3 separate regions of the Homo sapiens genome follow, and regions 2 and 3 are each linked to region 1. The links come from fine-mapping of genetic effects on gene expression. A gene starts in region 1. Each other region holds a variant in brackets. All regions are shown on one strand. Distances are from middle to middle. Region 1 holds the start of MASTL (microtubule associated serine/threonine kinase like). Region 2 overlaps ANKRD26 (ankyrin repeat domain containing 26). Region 3 overlaps MASTL (microtubule associated serine/threonine kinase like).

Region 1 (10,123 bases):
AGGACACATCCCCAGGAACAGCTTTTCCCAGTATCCTAGAGGGCAGACTTCCCAGATTTCTAGCACGTTACCCTGGCATGACATCACAGCAACTTTTCTACCATTCAGTGAGCCAAGGCCATGCCTTCGCCAACAATGTCAGGATCTCAGCCCTGGGGATGGAGAACTCTTCCTGACTCTATCTCAGCCCTAGAAGTATGAGCTGCTCCCTAAATCTGCTGGTCCTTTATTTTTTTAAGAGTTTTATTTACTTCTTAAATCCCTACCTATTCCACTTCCCTGTAAAAACAGGTGTTTTTTTTTAGATTAAACCAAAAAATGAGATTACATTTTTATATTTATTTATTTATTTATTTTTGAGACAGAGTCTTGTTGTCACCCAGGCTGGAGTGCAGTGGTGCGATCTTGGCTCACAGCGACCTCTGCCTCCTAGGCTCAAGCTATTCTCTTGTCTCAGCCTCCTGAGTAGCTGGGACTACAGGCGCACGCCACCACACCCGGCTAATTTTTGTATTTCTAGTAGAGATGGGATTTCACCATATTGGTCAGGCTAGTCTTGAACTCCTGACCTCAGGTGATCCTTGAACAACACAGATTAAAGCTGCACAGATCCACAGATACGTGGACTTTCTCCGGTCTCTGCCACCAGAGACAGAAAAACCAACCCCTCCTCTTCCTCCTCAGCCCACTCAACTTGAAGATAATGAAGATCTTTATGATGGTCCACTTCTACTTAATGAATGGTAAATATGTTTTCTCTTCCTTATGATTTTCTTAATAACATTTTCTCCATCTTACTTTATTGTAAGAATACAGTACACAATACATAAAATATACAAAATATATGTTAATGGACCCTTTATTTTATCGGTAAGGCTTCCTGGTCAATAGTAGGGTATTAGTAGTTAAGTTTCTCAGGAGTCAAAAATTATACTCAAATTTTTGACTACGGGGGAGGGACAATATCCTTAATCCTTCATTTGTTTAAGGGTCAACTGTATATCAAAAAGGCTTTCTCACACAACCAGGATAAAGACTTACCTCACTGCTGGGAGCCTCATGCTCAGGAACTACATCTCGATGCTGGTTTTGAGAAACTGACACTCCACTGAGAGAAACAGAAGTGTTTTTTGGTGTATGGAAGGCATTGATGAGATGACTCAGAGGAACTGTAACCTAGAAAAAGATAAAAGTTAAAAACTAAGTAGTTTTTTTTTAAATAAACAGAACAATCTCCTTTTTTTGTCAGGATTTGTTAAGAGTTAAAGGTACATTATATATCAACTCTGTATACTAAAAACTGTAAGTACTCAGATTTACTGCTGGTGAGACGAAAACTGGTATGTTCTTTCAGGATATTATTCTGAATATGTAAATCAAAAGTATCAAAAATACATACATTTCTTGTTTGTAGCAATCCACCTTCTAGGAATTTATTATAAGGAAATAATCTGACAAGTACTTGCACATGCATAGAGAACAACTCTCATCGAAACATTTAAAAAATAGTAGAAAGCTGGAAACATCCAGCATTAGGGGAGCGGCAAAACAAATGATACCACTGGTCGAGTGCAGTGGCTCACGCCTGTAACCCCAGCACTTTGGGAGACCGAGGTGGGTGGATCACTTGAGGTCAGGAGTTCAAGACCAGCCTGACCAACACAGTGAAACCCCATCTCTACCAAAAAATACAACAATTAGATGGGTGTGATGGTGTGCGCCTGTAGTCTCAGCTACTTGGGAGGCTGTGGTAGAAGAATTGCTTGATCTCAGGAGGCGGAAGTTGCAGTGAGCTGTGATCATGCCACTGCACTCTAGCCAGGGCAACAGGGTGAGACCTGTCTCTCAAAAAAAAAAAAAAAAAAAAAAAAAGAAACTACCACAGAATGAAATACATCCAACATTTAAAAAAAAAAAAATAGTAAGTAGGCCGGGAATGGTGGCTCATGCCTGTAATCCCAGCACTTTGGGAGGCCAAGGCAGGTAGATACCTGAGGTCAGGAGTTCGAGACCAGCCTGGCCAACGTGGTGAAATCCCATCGCCACTAAAAATACAAAAAAATTGGCCAGGAATGGTGTTGGGCGCCTGTAATCCCAGATACTTGGGAGGCAGAGGCAGGAGAATCACTCGAACCTGGGAGGCGGAGGTTGCAGTGAGCCAAGATCATGCCATTGCATTCCAGCCTGGGTGACAAGAGCAAAACTCCATCTCAAAATAAATAAATAAATAAAAATGAAAACAAAAAAAACACTTGAGCCCAGGAAGTTGAAGCTGCAGTGAGCTATCATGCCACCACACTCCAGCCTGAATGACATGGCAAGACCCTGTCTCAAGAAAAAAAAAAATTTACTTAATAAATATTTGTTGAGTAAATGAATACATTAAATGGGTTCTTATTATATACCAGGTTTAGTACTACAGGCTTTACTTCTATCATCCCATTTAATCCTCAAACAGCTATAATAATGAGTAACAATTATACTTCTTGTTACAGTTCTGTCAGAGACTTTTGAACCAGAGTGACTCCATCTGGAGTAGGGGCAAAATGAGGGTAAATGAGGCTGAGACCTACTGGGTTGCATTCCCAGGAGGTTAGGCATTCTAAGTTACAGGATGAGATAGGGTGTGGGCACAAGATACAGGTCATAAAGACCGTGATGATAAAACAGGTTGTAGTAAGGAAGCCAGCCAAATCCCACCAAAACTAAGATGGAGAGGAGAGTGACTTCTGCTAGTCCTCACTGCTCATTATGTGCTAATTATAATGCATTAGCATGCTAAAAGACACTCCCACCAGACCATGACAGTTTAAAAATGCCATGGCAACATCAAGAAGTTACCCTATGTGGTCTAAAAAGGGGAGGAACCTTAGGGGTCCCCCTTTCCCTGAAAACTTATGAATAATCACACATTGTTTAGCATAAAATCAAGAAATAACTAACTGTAGGTATCCTTCGTGGACAAGCCCAAGCAGCTCCTCTGCCTATGGAGTACCCCATTCTTTACTCCTTTACCTTCTTAATAAACTTGCTTTCACTTTATAGACTCTCTCGCCTTTTTTTTTTTTTTTTTTTTTTTGAGATGGAATCTCGCTTTGTCGCCCAGACTGGAGTGCAGTGATGCAATCTCGGCTCACTGCAACCACCGCCTCCTGGGTTCGAGTGATTCTCCTGCCTCAGCCTCCCGAGTAGCTGGGACTACAGGCGCAGGCCACCACACCCAGCTATTTTTTTGTATTTTTAGTAGAGATGGAGTTTCACCATGTTAGCCAGGATCTTGATCTCCTGACCTCGTGATCCGCTCGCCTCTGCCTCCCAAAGTGCTGGGATTACATGCGTGAGTCCCCGCGCCTGGCGACTCTCTCGAATTCTTGTGCGAGATCCAACAACCCTCTCTTGGGGTCTGGATCAGGGCCCACTTCCAGTAAAAATTCCAGTGTTTATCTCCTTCAAAACTCAAGTTTGAGTTGAGAACAATGGCAAACTTAGTTGCCACTGTAATCCTGTTAAGAGGTGGGACCTTTAAGAGGCATTTAGTTCAGGAGGGCTCTGCCCTCATCAATGGACTAACGCCATTATTGTGGGTACAGACCATTTAATAGATGAAGACAACAAAGATTTAGAATCTGACTCAAAATTCCAGACTTCTCATCCCATGGATATTGATACACAAATAAATTCGTGACATACTAAGGAATAAAGCTGACCGTAAAACTACCTTAAGTATGCATACCCGTGGGGGCGCGGTGGCTCACGCCTGTAATCCCAGCACTCTGGGAGGCCGAGGCGGACGGATCACAAGGTCAGGGGATGGAGACCATCCTGGCTAACACGGTGAAACCCCATCTCTACTAAAAATACAAAAAATTAGCCGGGCGTGGTGGCGGGCGCCTGTGGTCCCAGCTACTTGGGAGGCTGAGGCAGGAGAATGGCGTGAACCTGGGAGGCGGAGCTTGCAGTGAGCGGAGATCGCGCCACTGCACTCCAGCCTGGGCGACAGAGCGAGACTCCATCTTAAAAAAAAAAAAAAATTAAAATAAAAAAAAGTATGCATACCCGTGTTTGTTTATAGAAAAAAATGTGTGAAAGAATTTAGTCTAAGATACGTATCCCTGAGTAATGAGATTATGGGCGATCTTATTTATACTTTCAGCATTTTTAGCAAAAAAACATGGATTTGTTTTAAGGCTAGTCAAGTGAAGCAATGTATCATTTTTAGAGTCAGAAAGAAACAGTAAGTTCCTTACAGCCTGGGGGCAGTAAAAAGAAAAAAAAATAAACAGTAACTTCTTTTGAAACTTTAAAAATAATCAAATCATTTCAAGATACATATTTTCTACCTCTTTGAAAAGATTTATTTGAATTAGTTATATCTCTTTTATTTGAATTAGTTATATCTCTTTTCTTTCACAAAAGGATTTAGAGTTGAGCTCTTCTCAATGAAAAAGTTCATTTTCTGTGTCTTCCTTTTTACCATTTAATTTCAAGTGTATTCAACCAATTAAGCAACAAGGAATTCCAAATGTGTTACCATCCTTCAAAGCAAGAAATGCCTGAGAGTCCTCACTATATTTGAGCCCTGTTAAGACTGCCTAGGGTACATAAAAATCCCTTTATCATCTCTACCAACATCACATACTACTAACTGTCCATTCAGTTGATGGTAAATTCTCCTAAAATCAGGCCTCTTGATGTGAACTAAGGCAAAGAGTTGAGTTTCAAAAACTTCAATACCATATTCAATAGGCCATGTCAGACTTCTTTTTCAAACAATTACTAGGACTTCTCCAGACACTGTCATCTTGGTAAATAGCACCTTCAATGCATTCATCTGATCAAACCCAGAAACACCTCTCCCCATCATCTCTCTGATCTCTCATGCAATTCCACTTTCTTCAAAATATATCTCATTCTCTTCTTTCCATAACCACTGCAACAGCTTTAATTGGGGGGTGGGTGGGTATTTTTAGCTGATAACATCTTCCACTCTTGCCCTCTCCTATTCTCCATATAGCAAAAGCCAGTCATCTCTTAAAAATGAAAATCTAATCATGTTTTAAAACTTTCAATGGTTCCCAATACACTTAAAATGAAATCAGCCATAATATATCCTTTACTCCCTGTATGATCTGCCTCAAGTCTTTTCTCCAACCTCTTCTGTCACTACCCCCTTTAACTACTATGTTCTAGCCACACTAGCCTTATTTTTGTTCCTTCAACCTGCTAAACCCTTTCCTAACTCAGGACCTCCAGGTATTTTTCTGTATGCCTGTGATACCTGTTCACTCTTCACCTTGCTAAGTCCTACTCATATTTACTTCATATCAATATTAAGAGAAGATTCCACATTTGCTTTGCTCACCTGGTACATAACTGATGCCCAATAACAAGCAGCTGCTTCAGTTTGTTAGCCAGTACTAGCACAAAAAATTAAAAATTCTTAAAATGAGGGGGAGTAAAAGTTACACAAAGGAACACAATCATATGCTTAAATCAAGAACCTAAGAGTGTCGATTTTCTTAAAAATTATGTTTTAAAAAAACTCAATGTTTTAAAAACTATTTCTTTGCAAAACTGTAGGAACTCTCAAAAAATCTATTAAAATGTTACCATCAAAAAAAGAGACTGGAATGAAGCAAGAATAAAACATTGTCACAAGTGATTGCCCAAGAGCGTAATGAAAACCCTTGAAATCATTTTTCTCTTCACTACCTTTTGTTTTACAAAACGATGAGGATGAGGCTGAATCAAAATTTTAACTGCAAACAGTTTACGACTCGGAAATACACATTTTAGTTACTTCTGGTCAAAATGAGAAAAAAACTTGCATGGCTGGCCATCCGAAATATTATACCATGTTTGGGTTAAATTTAAATTCCATTTAAAAGGAAATAAAGAGCAGGGGATAGGGGCTGTGAACACTAAAGCCACTGGAAAGTCGGAAAAAAGGGAACATTACCTGCTCCCTTTAATGTATGGTACAGACATTTTCCCACCCCAGAACGCCGGACACTGAACAATGCCGGACGGATTCTCTAGCAGAAATTCCACGCAATCAGTTCGATAAGCCAGGGTCTCTCTCTATCACTGAGCTCACATCCCGCCTCTGCCCTCAACAGCTTCATCGTCAGCACTGAAGTCTCCGGCCCACTCTCAGCGTCGTCCCCTGATCCACTCCTCAATCCTGGGATTCGCATTGAGTACATCACTTCATTTCTAGAGTCCCTTCTGAGAAATCGCTTCCACGAGCGCAATTTGCAAACAGCCACGGGCAGGGCGGGAGGAAAAAAAATGGGCTGAATGCCTGGCTTACCTGGGGTTGCACCGTGCTCGACAAGGAAAACATCTCCGGCGGGCCCTCAGCGACCTCACCCGCCTGCCGAAACTGTGCCCCTCTGTCCACGGCCCGGCGGGGAGGCGCTGAGCCCTTCTTTTTTCCTTTTTCTCCGACCCGTTGCCCCTCACTCCTCCCAGAAACGGAAAATGGCCTCCCCTTCCTACAGCTACTGCAACGACAGACAATCCGCCCCGGAAGGCGAGGCGCTAACTCAACAGTACTTCCGGGGCAAGTGAGCGCCCACAAGGCCAAGTGCCTGCGCGTTCTTTCCCGCGGAAGTAGTTGACATTTACAAGGAGCAGCGCCCCCAAAGGTCTTTAGCTGTTTTTTAAGGGGAGAACAGCCTTTACCCTCTTTGGACTTTTTCTTCGTTTTTTTTTTTTTTGGAGACGGAGTTTCGTTCTTTCGCCCAGGCTGGCGTACAGTGGCGCGATCTCGGCTCACTGCAACCTCTGCTCCCCGGGTTCAAGCGATTCTCCTGCCTCAGCCTCCCGAGTAGCTGGGATTACAGGTGCCCGCCACCACGCCCGGCTGATTTCCTCTTAAGACTTTCTACAGCTTCCTTATGAAATCTTCTGACTGGGCCTTGAGCAATAAGGTCTTTTGCTACAATTTAGTGCTCTTTTCCTCACACTAAATCGAAAACTCTCCCTGTTGGTCCTGATCTGTTTCAGTCAGGCAAATTACATCCTGGGAAAACGTCAGATGACAGGGGAGGCCACTCGCTTCCTGCTCATCCAGTTTCGACACTTTCTGTGCTTTCATTAGCTTCCAGACCTCAGCCCTGGCCCTCGCTTTACTGTACAGTCAGAACTGGTTTCTACGCCTCGCGAGGGTGGGAGGTCGTGTATGGGAGGAGGACCGCTTCCCACCAGCCTCGTTGGGAAGCCAGGAGAAATCTCTTCAAATCCTGCGATTCAGAGTCAAGTCCCAGTCGTCCTTTTTCTGGTCGGCCCAGAACTGTTTGTGCCTCCTCCCTCATGAGGAATGATGTCAGTGGGGCCGCGGTCGCCGCCCACGAAGAGTGTAAGGCTGCGAAGTCGGGGCTTTCCCGACGCCCCCTCCGTCCGCGTCTGCGTAGGGGAGGTGACGAGGGCGGGGCGCGGCGGCGGGGTGACGTCACGGCCGCGCGCGGCGTGGGCGGAGCCTCACTTTGAACCCAGTTGGCGGGAGTGGCTGCTCGCGGAGGGGCAGTGTCTGCGGGGCCGCTGTATGCTGTCCAGCGATGGATCCCACCGCGGGAAGCAAGAAGGAGCCTGGAGGAGGCGCGGCGACTGAGGAGGGCGTGAATAGGATCGCAGTGCCAAAACCGCCCTCCATTGAGGAATTCAGCATAGTGAAGCCCATTAGCCGGGGCGCCTTCGGGAAAGTGTATCTGGGGCAGAAAGGCGGCAAATTGTATGCAGTAAAGGTAGGAAGTCAACGAGTAGCAAGGAAGGGGTTAGGCCCTTCGGCCCTCCTTCCTGCCCCACCGGCTTGGGCAGGCCCCGGGGTTGCTGGAGCGAGGAGTCTGGGTGGCCTGGCTTGCTGAAGCCTCCAGAGCCCTGCGAGCTGACTTCTTTTTGGGGCGACATCAGCGGTCGGGTCGGGTGTCTCGCCTCTGTTCCGCCCTTCCCTCCATATCTCAGATGCCCAGTGAGAACAGCAAAGTTTGACTCTCTTCTCCCTGCCCAGCGTTAGCAAATGAGGAAACTGAGGCCAAAGGCAAAGGGACTTGACCGAGGTGATTACATCGGTCTTAGTACAACAGGCACTTAAAGCCAAAGCCGTGATTCGTAGTCTCACCCTGGCTTGAGTTAGGTTTCTTTTTTATTTTTTTTTGAGGCGGAGTCTTGCTCTGTTTCCCAGGCTGGAGTGCAGTGGCGCAATCTCGACTCACTGCAAGCTCCGCCCCCCGGGTTCACGCCATTCCCCTGCCTCGGCCTCCCGACGAGCTGGGACTACAAGCGCCCGTCACCACGCCCGGCTGATTTTTTGTATTTTTAGTAGAGACGGGGTTTCTTTAGTAGAGACGGGGTTTCACCGTGTTAGCCAGGATGGTCTCGATTCCCTGACCTCGTATTCCGCCCGCCTCGGCCTCCCAAAGTGCTGGGATTACTGGCGTGAGCCACCGCGCCCGGCGAGTTAGGTTTCTAAATCCAAAAGGTTTTTAGTAATTAGTGGTTTTGTTTACCTTGTTTGCTTTGACGTGCAGAATCGTCGAAATTTTTCTACCACAGAAGAGTGATTAATCTGTAGGCACTGATAACTTTTTAAGTTTTATTCTTAACCAGAAGAAAGATTACTATTTTCTGAGAAGTCTTTAATAATTTTTTTTTAAGACAGTCTTTCTCTGTCGCCCAGGCTGGAGTGCTGTGGTGCAGTCTCGGCTCCCTGCAGCCTCTGCCTCCTGGGTTCAAGCGATTCTCCTGTCTCAGCCTCCCGAGTAGCTGGGATTACAGGCGCGCGCCACCATGCCTGGCTGATTTGTGTAGTTTTTTTTTTAGCCGAGATTGAATTTAGCCAGGTTGTTTTGGTTATGTTGGCCAGGCTGGTCTGGAGCTCCTGACCTCAGGTGACCCGCCCACATCGGCCTCCCAGAGTGCTGGGATTACAGGTGTGAGCCACCGCGCCCTGCCCTGCTATGAATTTTTTTTTTTTTTTTTTTGAGATAGAGTTTCACAGTGACGTGATCTCAGCTCACTGCAACCTCCACTTCCCGGGTTCAAGCGAGTCTCCTGCCTCAGCCTCCCGAGTAGTTGGGATTCCCGCCACCACACCGGGCTAATTTTTTGTATTTTTAGTAGAGACGGGGTTTCACCATTTTGGGCAGGCTGGTCTCAAACTCCTGAGCTCAGGTGATCTGCCCGCCTCAGCCTCCCAAAGTGCTGGGATTACAGGGGTGAGCCACCGTGCCTGGCCTTATGCTGGTTCCTTTTTAAGTGCTTTTCTTCTACCCTTTTGTGCTCTTCTCCACCTGTCTTATTCATGTATTAAGATTCATCTTAGCTCCCCTTCACACCTTCCCTAATCTTTCAGAATTGGAAGATCTGATTGAATTGGTTACTTTATATGTTCCTGAGATTTTTACTTTTCCTTCTACAGTACTTAGTCATGATCAGTTGAAATGAAAACACCAATCCATGTGTTCAGTCAGTATTTGCTTAGCACCCACCCTCTTTGTGTCTACGAACTGGACAACAATGGGGAACAAAACACACATGCCCTCATAGCCAGTGGAATGATAGGAAAAATCATGTTACCAGCTTGCTTTGTCAGTTTCCCTCAGTTTTCTTAAAGAAAGGAGTTAAGGCAGGAATTTATCATGTACTAATGATTTTATTAAGTACTCGAATAAATCTTTGAAAGAAATATGCCTTTTTTTCTTATAGCAGTCCTGAGAATTGATCCCAGTGTTACTGACTATTCAGTTTAGTGCTCCAACTTTATTTTTATTTATTTATTTATGTATTTTTAATTTTTCTTAGTGCTCCAACTTTAATAGTTCTGTTTCTGTACAGATTACCTTGAAACTTGAAAAGAGTAATTAGTTTTCTGTAAGACAGCATTTGGGACTGTTAAATTTCAGTAGTTCTAATCATTCCAACTTAAGATTTTTTTTTTCTAGGCAAACTTCCGACATTCTTCCTCTTTCTGATTCTATCCCCATCTATCAAAAAATCAGAAGTTAAAAAAAAAAATTAAGTAGTTACTCCACGCCCAGGTGCTAGTTATCTGTGGGCTTATGAGGAATGTAACTGTCTTTTGACTTCGTTATCAGAACAGTGGAACAGAATTTTTTTTCTA
Region 2 (10,123 bases), 78 kb before region 1:
TAGCACTTTGGGAGGTCAAGGTTGGAGGATCACTTAAGCCCAGTGGTTCAAAACCAGCCTGGATAATATAGCGAGACCCCATCTCTACAAAAAATAAATAAATAGCTAGGCATGGTGGTGCATGCCCATGGTCCCAGCTACTTGGGAAGCTGAAGCCAGACCCAGAAGATTTAAGCTTCAGTGAGCCTTGATCATGCCACTGCACTCCAGCCTGGGTAACAGAGACTCTGTATTTAAAAAAAAAAAAAAAAAAAAAGGCCAGGCGTGGTGGCTCATGCCTGTAATCCCAGCACTTTGGGAGGCTGAGGTGGGCGGATCACTTGAGGCCAGGTGTTCAAGACCAGCCAACATAGCAAAACCCCATCTCTACTAAAAATACAAAAATTAGCCATGTTTGGTAGTACACACTTGTAGTCCCAGCTACTCAGAATGCAGAGGCACAAGAACTGCTTGAACCCAGGAAGCAGAGGTTGCAACAAGCTGAGATCCCGCCACTGCACTCCAGCCTAGGCGACAGAGCAAGACTCCGTCTCAAAAAACAAAAGAAAAGAAAGCTATGATTATCCAAGTTGAAGATTTAAAAGTCTTCAAATATATCTATGATTATCAAGCAAGACCAGTATTCACACACAGAAAAGGACTAAAAAATCAAGTCAACAGGATTCTGAGTTTTAGAGATGAATGAATTTATGAGCAAGGTTTAACAACTATGAATACTAAAGTTAACAAAGCTTCCTGACGAGAATATAAAATGTCCTCATTGCTGGAGGTACTTTTAAAAGTAAAAAATCATCTTCTAGAGATTTTTTTTTTTTTTGAGATGGAGTCTCGCCCTGTCGCCCAGAATGGAGTACAATGGCACGATCTTGGCTCACTGCAACCTCCACCTCCTGGGTTCAAGCAATTCTCTTGACTCAGCCCCCTGAGTAGCTGGGATTATAGGCACGTGCCACCACGCCCGGCTAATTTTTTGTATCTTTAGTAGAGACAGGGTTTCACCATATTGGCCAGGCTGGTCTCGAACTCCTGACCTCATAATCTGCCCGCCTTGGCCTCCCAAAGTGCTGGGATTGCAGGTGTGAACCACCATGTCCAGCCTAGAGATAATTTTGTAAACTCCCTTGGCAATCTTTCCTTCCTTATGATTCTATAATAGGTAGTTTATTTTAGAAAACAATAATAAATTTTGACCGCTTTCATTTGGTGTATGCGTATGTGTCCATTACATACAGATATTAATTATTAGCACAAGATAAATCAGAATATTGCAGAAATAAACAATTGCTACATTCATTTTTTTTTTTTTTTTTTTTTTTTGAGACAGAGTCTCGCTTTGTCGCCCAGGCTGGAGTGCAGTGGCGCGATCTCGGCTCACTGCAAGCTCTGCCTCCCAGGTTCACGCCATTCTCCTGCCTCAGCCTCCCGAGGAGCTGGGACTACAGGCGCCCGCCACCAAGCCCGGCTAATTTTTTGTATTTTTTTTTTTTTTAGTAGGGACGGGGTTTCACCGTGTTGGCCAGGATGGTCTCGATCTCCTGACCTCGTGATCCGCCCGCCTCGGCTTGCCAAAGTGCTGGGATTACAGGCATGAGCCACCACACCCGGCCGGGACTACATTCATTTCTCTAACAATGCTTATACTAAAATTAATTTTCCCTAATTTTTTTCCCAAGATGACAGATGGGAGGCACTGTGACCAAGACTCTCCCTCTTGGAAAGGCAAAATAGTGTGTAGGGATTTGCGCTGCAAACTTTTTTCCAAGAAGCAACACAGGACCTTAACAGAAAAACTTAAAGAAACCAGAGACCCTGTGAAAGAACAGGCGGGCAGCAGTGTACACGATGAACCAGGTAGAAAATCGTGAGCCTCTAGAGTGTGAACGGGAGAGATGGTCCCTGGAACACACTTCCACTGGGAAGCCCGGCAATCCAGGCCACGGGGAAGCCCTAACTCCCCCCGCGCTGGAGCTGACTGAGTGAGCAGTGGGGGCACACAAGAAAAAGCGGCATCCCCATATACATTGCATGCATTCCCTGACTCCAGGAGGGACAGAGGGAAGCCATTCTTGATCCTACCTCACAGGCGTCCTGCCGGAAGTCAGCCAGCTGACCCAGGCTGCCATCACAGGTGGAGAGAAGCTCCCAAATGAGAGCTGCCATATCATCTTGAGTGGGGATAACCCCATCGGCCAGAACCACAGGGTGAACAAGAAGTGTGCCCAGGCTGCAGGAGCTGGATGCCCCTTGTTCCACAGGCGGATCAGGAGGGGCATGGCTTGAAAGTGCGGTTTCTGTCCCTCAGGAAGGCTTATGGCCTGGGACAATTTTGAGTTCCAAGCACAAGCTGACTGGAATCCAGCTTGCTGCTGCCAGCAGAACCCTATAGGCGTGAGACCTGCCTTGCCAAGCCCGTGCTGCATGAGACATACTGTTGCCTGATATCCCCAGCTCCTTCTGTGGATTCTTTTGTGCAGCAGAGGCAGCTGAGCTTCTCCCTGGAACACTACTCTAGCAGCCAGGGAACTGCCCTCTGATCCCCAATGGGGCCGCTCCACTGCTTGCACCCACATGTGGGGAGCCAGAGTGTGGACTGGCCTCACCCAGCCCCCACCCGGCTTTGCCCTCCACCTGCCATGGTAGCATAACACAATGGACAGGGACTTTTGGGAGATCCATGGCCCCAACCATTGTCTGAGACTCCAGAGTATTTCCCTTGGGTAACCTAAGGCAATCAAATCCCACCACTACCACTGCAACTGGCGCTCTTTTGCAAGCGCCACCTCCTGGCTAAAACTCAACAAGCACAGCCCATCACAACGTCTGCAAGCACAATGACACAGCACCAAGGAAGTAGGAAACTTCTGTGCATCTTCAGTTAATCACCACTGCCTGCATCTTTCTGGCTAACCAGGAGGTCCTGCAACTGTCTATGTGCCCAGCACATTAATACTACAGCTGGCATTTGAAAAAACACACAAAGGCTATTTGTAATGCAGGAAATCTCACAGAGTCTACATCATTCCCCTTCCCACCCTATCAGAGCAGGTGCTGGTACCCGCTGCTGGGAGACTCGAGGACAGGTCATCTCACTGGATCCCTTGCAGACATTCCCCAGCACCACCCTGGAGTATGGCAGCCCACTGGGTGGCTAGACCCAGAGGAGCAGCAGGATTCACAGCAGCCAGGTTCTCAGGGGCTGCTACTCCCAGGGGAAGGAATGCACCACATTGAGAGGGCACCCCATGGGAAAAAAAGAAACCAGACTGCAGGCCTTCCGCTTGTGGGAAGTTTCCTTCAGCAGAGGGACAGGTGCAGTGCTGGGCTCAGTGGAGAAAATCTAAGGCTTTCCCTTAACAGGTAGCCCTGGGGCATGTGAAGGGTCTTGGAGAAGAGAACTTCTCCCTCTTGCCCACCACTGCAGACACAGCTGGGGCTTTTCCCACGACAGCATGATGTGCGTGCATCTGTAGACAGCCTTCCTGAAGCACTTCAGGGTGACTGCATCCCACAGGACTGCCCTCCACGTTCAGGCTTGCATGAGGACCACAATCCCTCTCTATATGGAACATCAGTATTCCTGAAGATTAAAAAAGGTGCCTGTCTGATCTGATTAGCTGGAACACCTGGTCAAGAGTGTGACTGGGAGGCAGACTGCTTTCCTGTGGCTCCCTCCCTTCCCCCTGAAAACACTTTAGTGCATATCACTGAGAGCTCCCCCTGCCACATTTGTCAAGGCCAAACTTGGGGTACTGCATTTATCCACCTGCTTTAGCTGCAACCAGTTTTTACCCATGGGCTCCTTCAGCCTGAGGCCTGAAATGTTCAATCCAGTAAATAAAATACTGGGGAAAAAAATGTTTTAGGAAACAGAGTAGGCATCTGAATTTTTAAGTGCACAACACTGGAGAATGAGATAAGATTCGTGAGACTTCTGCCATTCCAGTCCCACAGGAAACAGTAAACCTGCTCACAGACCCAGTACATCGTTATTACTACCAACATCTGAGAAAATCATCACACAAAGATTCTCTGTAACGAAGGAGCTCACTACTACAAGGTCTTCACTACTGAAAGCACCCAGAGCTGAAGCTAGGTGACAATAAACTATAGACATTCAAGTCACATCCTCAAGGGGGGAAAAATAAATAAAAAAAAACCCAGTCAAATCAAAAATAAATTCAAAAATAATTACAAGAAATAGTCCACCCAAATTAGAAGGAACCAGAAAAATAATTCTGGTAATATGAAAAAACAGCATTCTATAATCCCCCTAAAAGATCACACTAACTCTCCAGCAATGGATACAAAACAAGATGAAATCTTTGAAATACCAGATAAAGAATTCAAAAGGTTGATTATTAAGTTACTCAAGAATATACAAGGGCAAGGTAAAAACCAACATAAAGAAATTTTTAAAAACAATTCAGGATCTTAATGAAAAATTTTCTAAAGAGAAAGATATTTTAAAGAAAAACCAATCAGAACTTCTGGAAATGAAAGACACATTTAGGGAACTACAAAATGTAGTGGGGGGCTGGGCATGGTGGCTCACGGCTGCAATCCCAGCACTTTGGGAGGCCAAGGTGGGTGGATCGCTTGAGGTCAGGAGTTTGAGACCACCCTGGCCAACATGGCGAAACCCTGTCTCTACTAAAAATACAAAAATTAGCTGGACATGGTAGCGTATACCTGTAATCCTAGCTACTAGGGGGGCTGAAGCAGGAGAAGTGCTTGAACCCAGGGGGTGGAGGTTGCAGTGAGCTGAGATCACACTACTCCAGCCTGGGTGACAGAGAGACTCTGTCTCGAGGGGGGAAAAGAAAAAAAGTAGTGGGAAGTTTTAACAGTAGGCTATGCCAAATAGAAGTAAGAACTTTAGGGTTTGAAGACAAGGCTTTCAAATTAATCCAATCAGACAAAAATAAAAAGAATAAAATAAAATAAATAAATAAGATTAAATAAAAAGAATTTTTAAAAATAACCTGTAAAGGAAAACCTATCAGACTAACAGCAGACTTCTCAGCAGAAACCTTAACAAGCCAGGAGGGACTGGAGTCCTATCTATAGTCTCCTTAAATAGGAAAAAAATCATCAGCCAAGAATTCTGTATCAAGCAAAACTAAGTTTCATAAATGAAGGAAAAATAAAGTCTTTCTTGAACAAGCAAATGCTGAGGGAATCTGTCAATACTAGACCAGCCCTACAAGAAATATTTATAAAAGTTCTCAATGTTGAAATAAAAGGTTGATACATAACAGAATAGAAACTTCTGAAAGCATACAATTCACAAAGTTTATAAAACAATAACATAATGGAGGAAACAAAGTCACTAGGTAACAATCAACACAATGACTGGAACAGTACCTCAGATCTCAATATTACCATTGAAGTAAATGGTCTAAATGCTCCACTTAAAAGATGCAGGTTGGCAGAATGGATTTTTAAAAATCACAAGCCAAATTCTCTGCTGTTTTCAGGAGACACACCTATCATGTAAGGATTCCTATACTCTCAAGATAAAGGGGTGGAAAAAGATATTTCACACAAAGAGAAACCAAAAGTGAGCAGGAGTAGCTATTCCTATATCAGATAAAACAGAGTTTAAAGCAACAACAGTAAAAGTAGATAAAAATTGTCACTATATAACGATAAAAGGATCGATTCAACAAGAAGATCTAAGAATCCTAAATATATACGCACCTATCTTCAGAGCTCCCAGATTAATAAAACAATTACTACTAGACCTAAGAAAACCTAAGAAAAGAGATAGCCACACAATAATAGTACAGGACTTCAACACTCCACTGACAGCACTAGACAGGTCATCAAGGTAGAAAGCCAACAAAGAAACATTGGACTTAAACTGCACTCAAGAACAAATGAATCTAACAGATATTTACCAAACATTCTACCTGAGAACTGCAGAATATACATGCTTTTAATAGGCATATGGAACATTCTCCAAGATAGA[C/A]CATATGATAGGCCACAAAACAAGTCTTAATAAATTTTAAAAAACTGAAATCATATGAAGTATCTTCTCAGACCACAGCAGAATACATAGAAATCAATTCCAAAAGGAACCCTCAAAATTATACAAACATATGGTAATTCCCATTTAACTTAATGATCTGCTCCTGATTTCGGAGTTAATAATAAAATCAAGAAGGAAATTTTAAAATGTTTTGAAATAAATAACAGTGCTACAAATTATCAAAACCTCTTACAGCAAATCAGTACTAACATCACACCTCAGGAAATTAGAGAAACAAGGACAAACCAAACCCAAAGCTAGCAGAAGAAATGAAATAACAAAGATCAGAGCAGAGCTAAATGTATTTATAACCAAAAACACAATATAAAAGATCAATGAAACAAAAAGTTTGTTTTTTGTTTGTTTGGTTTTTTTTTTTTTTTAGATGGAATTTCACTCTTGTCACCCAGGCTGAAGTGCAATGGCGTGATCTTGGCTCACTGCAACCTCCACCTCCTAGGTTCAAGTGATTCTCCTGCCTCAGCCTCCCAAGTAGCTGGGATTACAGGCACCCACCACCATGCCTGGCTAATTTTTCTGTATTTTTAGTAGAGACGGAGTTTCACCATGTTGGCCAGGCTGGTCTCGAACTCCTGACCTCAGGTGATCTGCCCGTCTAGGCCTCCCAAAGTGCTGGGATTACAGGTGTGAGCCACCGTGCCCAGTAGCTTTTTTTTAAAAGATACACAGTTGATAGACCACTAGCTACATTAACTAAGAAAAGAGAGAAGATTCAAATAAGCTCAAGTAGGAATGAATGTGGAGACAGTATAACTGATACCACCGAAATACAAAAGATAGCTCAAGACTACTATAAAAACCTCTATGCACACAAACTAGAAAATCTAGAGGAAACTGAAAAATTCCGGGAAACACGTAACTCCTCTAGCTTGAATTAGGAAAAAATAGAAATCCTGAACAGACCAGTAATAAGCAGTGAGATTGAATCAGTAATTTTAAAACCGCCAACAAGAAAAAAACCCAGGGCCACACGGATTCACAGCTAAATTCTACCAGACATTCAAAAAAGAACTGATAACAATTCTACTGAAACTACTCCAAAAGGTTGAGAAGGGGGAAATCCTCCCTAACTCATTCTATAAAGCCAGTATCACCCTAATACCAAAGCCAGAAAAGGACATAACAAAAAAAGAAAACTGCAGACCAATATCTCTGATGAATATAGATACAAAAATCCTCAAGAAAATACTAGCAAACCGAATCCAACAGCACATCACAAAGTAATAATTCACCATGATCAAGTGGGTTTCATTTCAAGGATGCAGGGATGGTTCAACATATGCAAGTCTTAAATGTGATTCATCACATAAACATAATTAGAAACAAAAACTGTATGATCATCTCAATAGATGCATCATTATGAGGATTGTTGGGGCAGGGGAAGGGTACATGAAAAAAGTTTTTTAAAAAACAACTTACCTTCATAAGACCAGGGTTTGCTAACGACTTGTGGGAAGGTTTTGGAAGAAGGTCAGGTGATTGATAGGTAGGATGAGAAAAGCACTGGACTTTGATTGATGTTGTAGGAAGGCTTTCAACCACAACTTCATCTTGACTATCGGAATCTCTATCCTCAAACAAAGTTCTATTTCCTGTTCTCACAGTGCCATATGTTGCTTCTACTACAGTAAAAACAAAATAAAGAGTAAATGAAAATATATGTAATTAAGAATCAGTGAATAACACAAGAATAAGCAGTTTTCAAACAGCTTACAATTTTTCCTGGATTGCTGAGAAGCAGTCATTAGCTTTGCTAAGCTTGGTTTTGGGACATTCTAGAAAACAAAAATAAGAATAACAAGTTTTAAAAAAACAAGTATCAAATTTGATAAAATAATCGTAATAGATAGTCACCATTACTACATGATCTAACACAAAGAACAAAGATTTTGGAGTCACTCAGATGTAGATTTAAACCTCAGTTCTGCCCTTTGCTACATCTTCTCATGGGGTAAGGATTATGAGAGATGATACAGATATCCTCCAAAGGTTACTCCCCTTACCCCTAATTGATTATTATATAAATACTATGATATCTGTTCGATTATTTTCTTAACCACAGTAGCCTAAAATGAAAATTTTTTCCTAGGTAGAGTATTATAAAAGTCAAACATTAAAACATTTAAATTAATTACATATTATTTTCTGAAATGTGTATGCATGATTTATATTTGCATGAATTACCTCTTGTGAGAAAAACTGTGAGCATTTTGTTCTTAGTATATTTTATGAAAGTGGGTTGGCACTGCAAATAGTATAGGCTGCTTCTATTCTGTCAAAAAGCTAAAAATAAATGATTGTATAAATTCAGCTCCTTACAAGAAACAGAGAAAAAAACAAAAATAATCCTTGTGGGGCAATGATTGCTGAACAAAAGCCACACATAACTACATAAATAGAAAGCTGCACCTAAATATGCTGCAAATGGAGACAGACATGGACTGAAATAACAGAACTGAAGAAATGTATTCTGCAAGGAAACATTTAGGCTGAGATAAATCATTTTTAAAAGATGAAAGAGTAGGGAGAAAAAAAATAGAGGCATGACCATTCGAGTGTGAGCTTAAGTCAAGGAAGAAAAGGAAAGGCTTTAAGTATACTAAGGCACACTGAGAAACACAGACCTGTAACAGACTTTTGTTCATAGGATATCCCTGATAATACTGATTAGTATTTACAACCAGTTTTTTAAAAAATACTTCTGTAGTAAACAGTTTAATTTTAAGTCATCCAATTAGTTAAAAATGATCATCTACTACTACCTGAAAGCTGTAACATTCTTACTACAGAGAGAGAAAAATGGAAAAAGATTTTAAAATCATAGTAGGAGTGCTTATCCATATAAACTTTGACCAAATTTCATATTTCCTCTATTGTAGGAAAACTTTTCCCAATATAATTTTCCTGTCACTATGTATTTTCCAGTATATTCTTTTTTTTGCAATCCCCACTCCCTCAAAGTACTTATCAATCCTTTGTTATTTACCAAAGTAAAAAAAAAAAAAAAAAAAGAATTCAACTGGCCATATTTCTATAAAATGGCTTCCCCTGACCACCTTTCCATTACAAACAGAAAACAATGATAAGTAGACCACTGCAAAATTTTAAGAGAATACTATACGAAACTAGATTCAGAGTAAGAAAATTAAGTTCATGAGAGAGCACTTTACCTTAGTATCAAAATTGAGGTCTTCGTCATCTGAGGTAGGCCATGAATCATCAACACCCGGTTTGCCAGAAAGCCTTTAGAACAAAAATATAGAAAAATGAGTGAATTCATTTCTTTAAAAACAAAACAAAAACCAGCTTACAATTTTCAATCTGGATGCCCCCTCCAAAAAAACAAAAACCTGGTGAAAGGTCAACTGTCTGCATATTAAATGATGTTTCTTGATCTAATTAAAATTTGATCTTGTTTTTGAAAAATATTTTAGTTACCAATTGCTGCCTCTACCTCTCCGAAACTATAAAATATTCGATAAAGACTCAACCTTAGTTCTATAACTAATAGTGACAGCCAAGATAATGGCAGAACCTGGGAATACTTTGTCTTCACAAATTGTCCCGAAGGCTGAACTGAAAATCCAATTAATGGCTGATATAACTTTCGTTACCTGAACCAGCACAAACCTGATAATCTAAAACAAGGTGGAGATCAGATGCGGTGGCTCGTGCCTGTAATCCCAGAACTTTGGGAGGCGGAGGCAGGAAGATAACTTGAGCCCAGGAGTTCGAGATCAGCCTGGCCAACATGGCGAAACCCTGTCTCTACTAAAATACAAAAATTAACCAGGCGTGGTGGCATGTGCCTGTAATCCCAGCTACTAAGGAGGCTGGGGCAAGAGAATTGCTTGAACCCGGGAGGCAGAGATTGCAGTGAGCCGAGATCATGCCACTGCACTCCAGCCTGGGTGACACAGCAAGACACTGTCTCAAAAAAATAAAAATAAATAAATAGGCTGGGCACGGTGGCTCATCCCTGTAATCTCAGCACTTTGGGAGGCCGAGGCGGGCAGATCACGAGGTCAGGAGTTCAAGGCCAGTCTGACCAACATAGTGAAACTCTGTCTC
Region 3 (10,123 bases), 39 kb after region 1:
GCAGTGGCTCACGCATGTAATCCCAGCACTGTGGGAGGCCGAGGCAGGCTGATCTTGAGGTCAGGAGTTCAAGACCATCCTGGCCAACATAATGAAACCCCATCTCTACTGTAAATACACAAATTAGCCGGGCATGTTGGTGGGCGCCTGTAGTCCCAGCTACTCTGGAGGCTGAGGCAGGAGAATCGCTGGAACCCAGGAGGAGGAGGTTGTGGTGAGCCAAGATCGTGCCACTGCACTCCAGCCTGGGCAACAGAACAAGACTCCGTCTCAAAAAAATAAAGGCAGCTGGAAAATTCCTTCACTTAGTAACTCCTTTGGGGAATAAGGAATAAACAAAAAGACTAAGGCTTTCACTTACTTTACTAATGATACGGTTTTGCCACCTTAATTTCTATTGGTGCGTAGTCCACAATATGTATTTGTTTAAAATGGTACTGGAGGACGGGTGCGATGGCTCATGCCTGTAATCCCGGCACTTTGGGAGGCTGAGGCAGGCAAGTCGCTTGAGGCCTGGAGTTTGAGACCAGCCTGGCCAACATGGCAAAACCTGGTCTCTACTAAAAATAGAAAAATTAGCCAGGTATGGTGACGCACACCTGTAGTCCCAGCTACTTGGGAGGCTGAGGCATGAGAATCGCTTGAACCCAGGAGGTGGAGATTGCAGTGAGCTGAGATCACATCACTGCATTTCAGCCTGGGCAACAGAATGAGACTCAGTCTCAAAAAAAAAAAAAATACTACTGGAACAATTAGGTGTGATATAATGTAGCAATTTGAATAGCTTGTTCAATTTTAATAGAAAATGTGATGCTTTACATCTTATTGTCATTTATTTAAAACATGCAACATTATCAGAAACAGATTGGTCCTTAAAAAACAAAACATAATTTTCTTTTGCTTAATAAATATAACTATCACAAGTACATTATCTGTCAACATCATTCTTTTCAACAAAGCGAGACCCCATTTCCGGGGGAAAAAAAACTTGTTCCTTTTGCACATCGGGTTTAGTGTTTTTACTTTCCATTACCATCCCAATCAACAGCCCTGTTGCAATGTAGTTGACAAAATGTACAAATTTAAAATGGTTACAGTGAAAGATACACCATTATAATTAGTGCTATATAACTGAATCCATGGGTTAATGGTTTTACTGAGCTTGTTTTAGTAATAACTACTTAGATTTAATGGTCACTTCTAGTAAAATGTTCAAAATACAGTTGTTCAAAACTTTGAATTACATCTTTCCCTTAAATTAGGCAAAAGCATAGAATTATCTATTATCCTTTTATGGTATTTGCCAGTAGTAGAAAGAAAAAAAGTTTGGGAATCAAACACAAATTGTTGAAATCACTGCTCTGCCACAATAAAAGGCCTCTGGCAGGTTAAACTGAGCTATTGATGACTCACTGTATAGTGGGGATTAATAGTGATTAATTTGGAGAGTTGGAATGAACAGAGTAGATTGAGGAACAAGCCAATTTAGTTGCTACCCAGGATATTAACCTTAACAGGGACTTGAAACATTACTGAATAATCGGGGAAATGTTCTCTGAGCATATTCCCAATGCACAAGACAATGGCCTTGAGTGGAAAGTTACACTGTTTACTAACAGACCTAGCATGTGAAGCTATAGTCACTTGAAATTCAGCCACAGGTAAGGCATGCTGTAATGGTATTTATTGGGAACAGGTGACTTATTATCTAAATTTATACCTGTCAAGATGTAGATTCAGACACTTGCTAGGGAAAAACCTAAGAGGAAAGAACAATGGGAAAAAGGGGATGGTTTTGACAGCTGATGTATATGTGTGCATGCACGTCTTTAAAAAACACCAACGGCCACCAATAGAAATCCACTCATCTTTTGCTATGAAGGAAATCAGAACATATCATCCTAAAATGCCTCTTTGACATAAAAATATTTTTGAGCTAAAGGCAGTTAAGAAGCAGCAAACTGAGGAAAGCTCTCGCCATCCCCCTGCCTTTCTGCCCAAAGGCAGGATATAACTTCTCCTTTGCTGGAGACAATTCTAGAGTCTTATCTACCAGGGACAGCACCAGAGGAATTGGCAAAGAAACCTTATTCAATTAGTTTCCTCCCACATACAGTGTTTGCCTTCCCAAAGGTTCCAGTCCTTGGAAGCCTAAAACCACTTTCCTTTGTCCTGTCATTTCTCTACAAATGTATTGTTCTTTGTTGGCCAGGCTGGTCTCAAACTCCGGACTTCGTGATCCACCCGCCTCAGCCTCCCAAAATGCTGGGATTACAGGCGTGAGCCACCCGGCCAGCTATATACAGTTTGTATTAATAAAAAATAATTTGTGGCTGGGCATAGTGGCTCACGCCTTTATTTCCAGCACTTTGGACAGCCAAGGTGGGATGATTGCTTGAGGCCAGGAGTTAGAGACTACCCTGGCCAACATAGCAAGACCCTGTCTCTATCTAAATTTTTTAAAAACCGTCATTCTCAGCAAACTATCGCAAGGATAAAAAACCAAACACCGCATGTTCTCACTCATAGGTGGGAATTGAACAATGAGAACACATGGACATAGGAAGGGGAACATCACACACTGGGGCCTGTTGTGGGGTGGGGGGGAGGGATAGCATTAGGAGATATACCTAATGTAAATGACGAGTTAATGGGTGCAGCACACCAACATGGCACATGTATACATATGTAACAAACCTGCACGTTGTGCACATGTACCCTAGAACTTAAAGTATAATAAAAATATATATATATATATATAAATAAACTTTTGTTTTCACAACGGCATAATGTTTATTGGATGAATTTAGAAAAAGAGTAAAAAGAAAAAATAAGTTGGTATCTGTTAAAGGAAAATGTTTTATTCTTACATGAAAAATGCAAAATAATAGATGTGACTTGTTTTCCTTTGGAGCTCCAAAATAAAAATATCAGTAAACACTTATCTAAAAAAATAAAATAATAATTGTTTTTTAGGCTGGGCATGGTGGCTTACGCCTGTAATCTCAGCACTTTGGGAGGCTGAGACGAGTGGATCACAGGAGGTCAGGAGTTCGAGACCAACCTGGCCAACATGGTAAAACCCCGTCTCTACTAAAAATATAAAAATTAGCCAGGCATGATGGTGCGCGCCAGTAATCCCAGCTGCTCGGGAGGCTGAAGCTGGAGAATTGCTTGAACCTGGGAGGTGGAGGTTACAGTGAGCCAAAATGGCGCCATTGCACTCCAGCCTGGGTGACAGAATGAGACTCTGCCTCAAAAAAAATTATTTAAAAATGTTTTGTCCCACCCCCATTAAATGTTAAACAAATCCAGAAATTATGTTTGAAGAATGTCCTGTTTATCTTGGCCCACCTATGTTAGAATTAAGTAAGATGAAGTACATAGCAAACATAAAAGGTGTTTAATAAAATGATAATTATTTGAACCCTAAGTACCCTACTGCCTCCTGGAATATGTACTTTAATTTTGGGTTCGGGAAGTGGTAACTATATAAAGCCTTACTATTATGCTCCAAAACATCTTGAAGGACATTCGGGTCTAATTCCTCTATTTGCTACAAAGAACTGTCTTATTTTTAGCCATTTATAAAAATGCTGAGAGTCCAGAATATAGTACAAATATATTTACTGTTTACACCAGGTCTTTCAATTAATACCAAGCCAACCATGGATGAGTCATTCTTTTAACTGTGTGGAAAGTGTATTGTACGGGACAACATTTGAAGGAAGGAGACTGAATAAAAGGCTTCTGCACCAGCCCACCTGGATTCAAGACATATTTTAGAGGTAGGAGCAACAGGACTTTACTGATATATGGGATGAGACAGGTGAGAGAATGGAAGAGCCACATTTGACACCTAACTTCTGGCTTGAGCAGTTGGGTGGATTGTGGTGCTGCACCCTGAACTGGAATGAGGGACAGGATGGGTAGACATACTAAGTTTGAGATGTCTGTGAGACACCCAAATAAAGAATTCAAGAAATCAGTTGGACACCTCCAAATAAAAATGGTATGTCTGCAAATTCTTTTACACTCTTCCTTCAACAGGTGAATGAATAAACAGAGGCACATCTATATAATGGGCTATTATTCAGCGCTAAGAAGAAATGAACTACAATGAAAAGACACAGATGAATCTTAAGTGCATATTACTAACTGGAAGAAGCCAGTCTGACAAGGCGACACACCGTATGATTCCAAATATACGACACTGTAGAAAAGGCACAACTATAGAGACAGTAAAAGGATCTGTGGTTGCCAGAAGTTAGGAGGGAAGGATGACAAGGTGGAGCACAGAGGATTTTTTAGGGCAGTGAAACTACTCTGTATGATATAAT[G/A]GTGGATACATATTTTAAATTTGTCAAAACTCATAGGATGTACACTAAGAGTGAGCCCCATGGTAATGATATGTCCATGTTGGTTCATCAGATGAAACAAATGTACCACTCCACCAGATGTTGACGGTGGAAGAGGTTGTGCAGGTGGGGCGGGGGGAGAGGAGGGTAGAATATGGGAGCTCTACTTTCCACTTGATATTGTTGTAAACCTAAAACAGTTCTAAAAAAGTCTATGGCCAGATGCGGTGGCTCACGCCTGTAAGCCTAACACTTTGGGAGATCGAGGCAGGCAGGTCACCTGAGGTCAGAAGTTTAAGACCAGCCTGGCCAACATGGTGAAACCCCATCTCTACCAAAAATACAAAAAATTAGCTGGGTGTGTGGTGGTGGGTGCTAATGATCCCAGCTACTCAGGAGGCTGAGGCAAGGGGAATCACTTGAACCCGGGAGGCAGAGGTTGCAGTGAGCAGAGATTGCACCTCTGCACTCCAGCCTGGGTGACGAGAGGGAAACTCTGAATCAAAAAAAAATAATAACAATAAAGTCTATAAATAACCTAACAACGCATCTTAACTAGGAAAGCAAAAACAAACCCAAAATTAGTAGAAGAAATAATAAGATACAGCAGAAACAAATGAAACTGAAACTCCCCAAAATACAAAAGATTTTTAAAAATGAACTTGGTTTACTTTGAAAACAAAATCAACAAACCTTTAGCCAGACTAAGAAAAAGGAATACCCAAGTAAATAAAATCAAAGATGGAAAAGGAGACAGGACAACTGATACCGCAGAAATATGAAGAATCATCAGAGACTACTGGGAATAAATATATGCCAAAAAACTGGAAAACCTACAAGAAATGGATACATTCCTTGACACTTTTTTTTTAAGTCTACATCCAAAGTAGGGATTGTGAAAAAAAAAATTTATAATAATGAAAAAAAAAGTCTACTGGGGGCTGGAGATGGGGTGGCTTAAACACTCTCTCTCTCCTAGTTCCATGAAATAAATCCCAGAGAGTAACTGACTGCTGGTTCTATGCCCATCACTGTGATGTCACTGTGGTCAGGAGAATGGGATATAAGCTGACCAGGCTGAGTCACATGTCCATTACTGTGAGTCACGATGGGGCAGCAATGGGCATAGCTGGGTGTTCCATTTAGCAGCCTCACCAGAATCACTGGATTCTCGTGGAGGAGGAAGAGCGCTCCAAGGGAAGAGGGGAGGGGACAGAAGAGAGGGGAAAGGGTGACCAGTAAAATTTAAAAAATAACTGATACTCCCTTGCCTGATTTTATGTAGGTATAAAAAGTTCTCTTCAGGCTTGGCACAGTGGCTCACAGCAGTAATCCCAGCACTTTGGGAGGCCGAGGCGGGTGGATCACGAGGTCAGGAGTTCAAGACCAGCCTGGCCAATATGGTGACACCCTGTCTGTACTAAAAATACAAAAATTAGCCGGGCGTGGTGGCGGGCGCCTGTAATCCCAGCTACTCAGGAAGCTGAGGCAGAGAATTGCTTGAACCCAGGAGATGGAGGTTGCAGTGAGACGAGATCACACCACTGCACTCCAGCCTGCTGGGTGACAGAGTGAGACTCCGTTTCAAAAAAAAAAAAAGTTCTCTTCAACACATGTTAAAGAATTGAAACAAGTGAGGAAATTTCTCTATTTCTCTTTTTTTATGTTTTTCTTTCTTTTCTTCCTTCCTCCCTCCCTCCCTCCCTTCCTCTCTCTCTTTCCTTCCTTCGTGTGTGTGTGTGTGTGTGTGTGTGTGTGTGTGTGTGTGTGTGTGTGTGTGTGTGTGTCTTGCTCTGTTTCCCAAGCTGGAGTGCAGCGGCAAGTTAATCACCTGAGTTTGAGACCAGCCTGGCCAACATGGAGAAACCCTGTCTCTATTAAAAATACAAAAAAATTACCCAGGCAACGTGTCTGGCACCTGTAATCCCAGCTTGAGAGGCTGAGGCAAGAGAATTGCTTGAACCTGGGAGGCGGAGGTTGCAGTGAGCCGAGATTGCGCCACTGCACTCCAGCCTGGGCAACAGAGCGAGACTCTGTCTCAAAAGAGAGAAAAAAAAAAAGAACTGATAAGAACTGATACTACCCTTGATCTTAGCCAAAAGGCTAAGAAGTGATTAAATAATTTTGTATACAAAAATATAACTATGAGAGCCAGTTCTTGCCAATGAGATGTGAGGAGTCTCCTGTGTGGGACTTTCAAGAAAGTTACTGTTTCCTGATCAGATGGAAAAATACAACTGTTAATTGCTTTCTGCGCTTCACTCTGTGCCTGCCTATAATGTAGACATTAGATCTAAATGTACTTCACTATCTTGCAAGCATGAAGATAAAAGCTACACACTAAAGATGGGAGAAAGAAAGACAGGAGGAGCCTGTCTACCTAATGGCATTGTGGAAGCACCTTCCCGGCCCTGGACTTCTATCTCCAGACTTATATCGAAGGAAAAGACCCAGTTACTTGGTCAAGCCACCACAGCTGGGTTTCTATTACATGAAGCAGAATAATGATACCTTAAATGATACATCACTTTTATTACTCTGTAGAAGTTACAAGTCATAGATGGGTATTAAAAACAAAACCCAGGCCAGGCGCGGTGGCTCACACCTGTAATCCCAGCATTTTGGGAGGCTGAGGCAGGTGAATCACCTGAGGTTGGGAGTTCAAGACCAGACTGACCAACATGGAGAAACCCTGTCTCTACTAAAAATACAAAATATTAGCCAGGAGTGTGGCATATGCCTGTAATCCCAGCTACTCAGGAGGCTGAGGCAGGAGAATCACTTGAACCTGGGAGGTGGAGGTTGCAGTGAGCCGAGACGGCACCATTGCACTCCAGCCTGGGCAACCAGAGCGAAACTCCGTCTCAATTAAAAAAAAAAAAAAAAACCCTCTCATCATTTTCCACATAAGACCAGAGATGTGTATTTAAGATGGTTGATTAGGGCTGGGTGCGGTGACTCACGCCTGTAATCCCAGCACTTTGGGAGGCAGAGGCAGGAAGATCACCTGAGGTCAGGAGTTCAAGACCAGCCTAGCCAACATGGCAAAACCCCGTCTCTACTAAACGTACAAAAAATTAGCCAGGTGTGGTGGTGGGTGCCTGTAATCCCAGCTATGTGGGAGGCTGAGGCAGGAGAATCACTGGAACCTGGGAAGCAGAGGTTGCAGTAAGCTGAGATCACACCACTGCAATCCAGCCTGGGCGGCAGAGCAAGACTCCATCTCAAATAATAATAATAATAATAATAATAATAATAATAATAAGATGGTTGATTAGGGTTCATTGTGTGGCTGTGGGAAGCTATTTATTTGGTGTAAGAACTGAAACCGGCTGGGTGCAGTGGCTCACGCCTGTCATCCCAGCACTTTGGGAGGCCGAGGCGGGTAGATCACGAGGTCAAGAGATGGAAACCATCCTGGCCAACGTGGTGAAACCCCGTCTCTACTAAAAATACAAAAATTAGCCGGGAGTGGTGGCACGTGCCTGTACTCCCAGCTACTCGGGAGGCTGAGGCAGGAGAATCGCTTGAACCTGAGAGGCGGAGGTTGCAGTGAGCCGAGATCACGCCACTGCACTCTAGCCTGGCAACAGAGCGAGACTCTGTCTCAAAAAAAAGTAAAACCAAGAATCTGACTGGATTGCTAATATTCTCAACCAGATGACTAAATAAGTTAAATTTCATCCCAGTTTCTGATTTTTATCAAATTGTGTGGAATAGCATGGCTTTATTTTGAGAGTCATAATTACTTTATGTGCGACTACTACTTACTCTCATTGAATTCTTACCTAATCAATGGGCTAATAGTAACAAGTAATAAAAGCCATATCATTTCTCATTAACCTTTTATTTTTAACTTAGTTTTACAATAAACAGAAAAGAAGTTATCATTAAAAAAATACCATAGCTGTCAAGTTTAAATGAGGTTCTTATTAAACAAAGCAGGAACACTATATCCTATAATTACATCTTTACTTTTATATACAAGAACTGTGTGCAAAGTGCTTTTCAAACTATAAAATAAGACTTTGGAACAGGATAGAAATGGTTATCCCTAGGAGTTAGTTATCCCAGACTGCTTGTAATGATTCACAACTGCTTACACTCTTAATTTGCATTTTATTTATTTATATACTAAGAGAAAAGACACTTTTTACTGATACCAAATTGATATCTCATTTTTGAAAATAATCTTTGATCCACAGGTCTAAATGTTATTTTTACATATAAATTCAGTTGCTTGCTTCACTTTTTCCTAAATAAATAGGGAACACTTTTTTAAAAGCAAATAGTAGTAGATCCCTTTAGACAGACATATTTTAATCAGTATGGGATTAAATAATTAAAGTTATTTGAAAGAAAAAAATAAGGAAAAAGAGTTTGGGAAAAGTAAATTGTATTCTTATACTTTTCAGGCAAACAAAGAACCATTCTGTATACTAAAGACAGATTATTTCTTATTTAAAACACTGTGAACATATGATGTTAAACCCAACATCATACATCTTGAGAATGCTTAAAAATTATTTGCTACAGGCCAGGTGCAGTGGCTCACGCCTCTAATCCCAGCACTTTGGGAGGCCGAGGCAGGCAGATCACCTGAGGTTGGGAGTTTGAGATCAGCCTTACCAACATGGAGAAACCCCGTCTCTACTAAAAATACAAAATTAGCCAGGCATGGTGGTGCATGCCTGTAATCCCAGCTACTTGGGAGTGAGGCAGGAGAATCACTTGAACCCAGGAGGTGGAAGTTGCAGTGAGCCAAGATCACGCCATTGCCCTCCAGCCTGGGCAACAAGAGAGAAACTCCATTTAAAAAAAAAAATTATTTGTTACAAAGACTGCATCAAAGAAATCTTCAAAGCACAAGGTACATCTAAGTGAGCAGGAAGTTTTGGAAGGCATACAGGAAAAGTCTCCAAGGATCTAAATTGTAGTCTTCTTTTTGGTCTAGATGAGAGAGGTGGGGAAGAGGGACTTAAATTTCTGTTAGCTGGGCATGCCTTATTCCTATGGAAGCATTTGGCCCGTTAGCTTGCAAATCCCTCCAGTACTCCTGTGAAGTAGGTGTATCTAAAATAGTATACCCCGAAGGAAAAACTGAGGCACTAAGAGGTTAAGAGTCCAGTCTATATAGTTCATCAGTTGCAGAAAAGTGATTTTCGTGTGTTTCCTTTTTGACTGTTGTAAAAACAGTATAAATAAGTTTTCATTTTATATTTCAAAGCACCCTATGAAGCAGACACTAGATATCCTCAGTTAAACAAAAATGATTACAAAGGAATACATTTATATGATTGAATAAAAACCTGATTAATCATCTACAGGCTCAGAATACACTTTTAAACCTACATGAAGCTCATTCTTCACCATTTCCATCAGTGGGTTATGTCTAGCCTGCAAATCATTTGTAAAAACTCAGTCTGGTACATAGGACTCCACTTTTTAATAATGATGCCTGAACACCAAACTCAAGAGTTGTGAATGCCCAAGAAAGATTATGGGCAGCCCACAAAGTGAATATGACCATTCTTCCTGTGGTTTTCTACTACATGCCATGGCAACTCCGTGACTAAGATATAAAGTCGATTACATCTCATTTGAAATTCACTCCTGGTTTGCATTCTTTCTTTTATTTAATTTAGAAAATTAAAAATAATAACTTATAAATTTGATCTCATTATCACAATGGTACCTTTGAAAAGCAGCTTATGTTACTCTATGGAAGATAATCAGGTAAACATGTTACCAAATGATCATTAATA

Evidence for each region. PIP is the estimated chance that this variant, and not a neighbour inherited with it, causes the effect.
Region 2: its variant is the best candidate, but not a certain one, in a credible set for the expression of MASTL in tibial artery (GTEx, PIP 0.74).
Region 3: its variant is the best candidate, but not a certain one, in a credible set for the expression of MASTL in tibial artery (GTEx, PIP 0.89).

Annotation. Positions count from the first base shown.
Region 1 is chr10:27,147,865-27,157,987 of GRCh38, forward strand. MASTL (microtubule associated serine/threonine kinase like) reads left to right here and starts at 7,488. Exons shown (of 12, transcript NM_001172303.3): 1 at 7,488-7,748. The coding sequence starts at 7,563. YME1L1 (YME1 like 1 ATPase) reads right to left here and starts at 6,520. Exons shown (of 19, transcript NM_014263.4): 1 at 6,314-6,520; 2 at 1,042-1,176. The coding sequence starts at 6,346. RefSeq lists enhancers at 7,250-7,309, 7,930-8,179 and silencers at 7,370-7,579, 7,377-7,575.
Region 2 is chr10:27,069,867-27,079,989 of GRCh38, forward strand. ANKRD26 (ankyrin repeat domain containing 26) reads right to left here. Exons shown (of 34, transcript NM_014915.3): 7 at 9,223-9,295; 8 at 7,767-7,827; 9 at 7,472-7,674. Among named protein-coding and RNA genes, the nearest start is that of ANKRD26, 26 kb to the right of the region's middle. RefSeq lists enhancers at 2,654-3,187, 8,151-8,320. The variant C/A (reference allele first, on the strand shown) is at 5,972.
Region 3 is chr10:27,187,028-27,197,150 of GRCh38, forward strand. MASTL (microtubule associated serine/threonine kinase like) reads left to right here. Exons shown (of 12, transcript NM_001172303.3): 12 at 1-926. It overlaps ACBD5 (acyl-CoA binding domain containing 5), which reads right to left. Exons shown (of 13, transcript NM_145698.5): 13 at 8,187-10,123. It also overlaps the pseudogene RNU2-24P. Among named protein-coding and RNA genes, the nearest start is that of MASTL, 37 kb to the left of the region's middle. The variant G/A (reference allele first, on the strand shown) is at 4,341.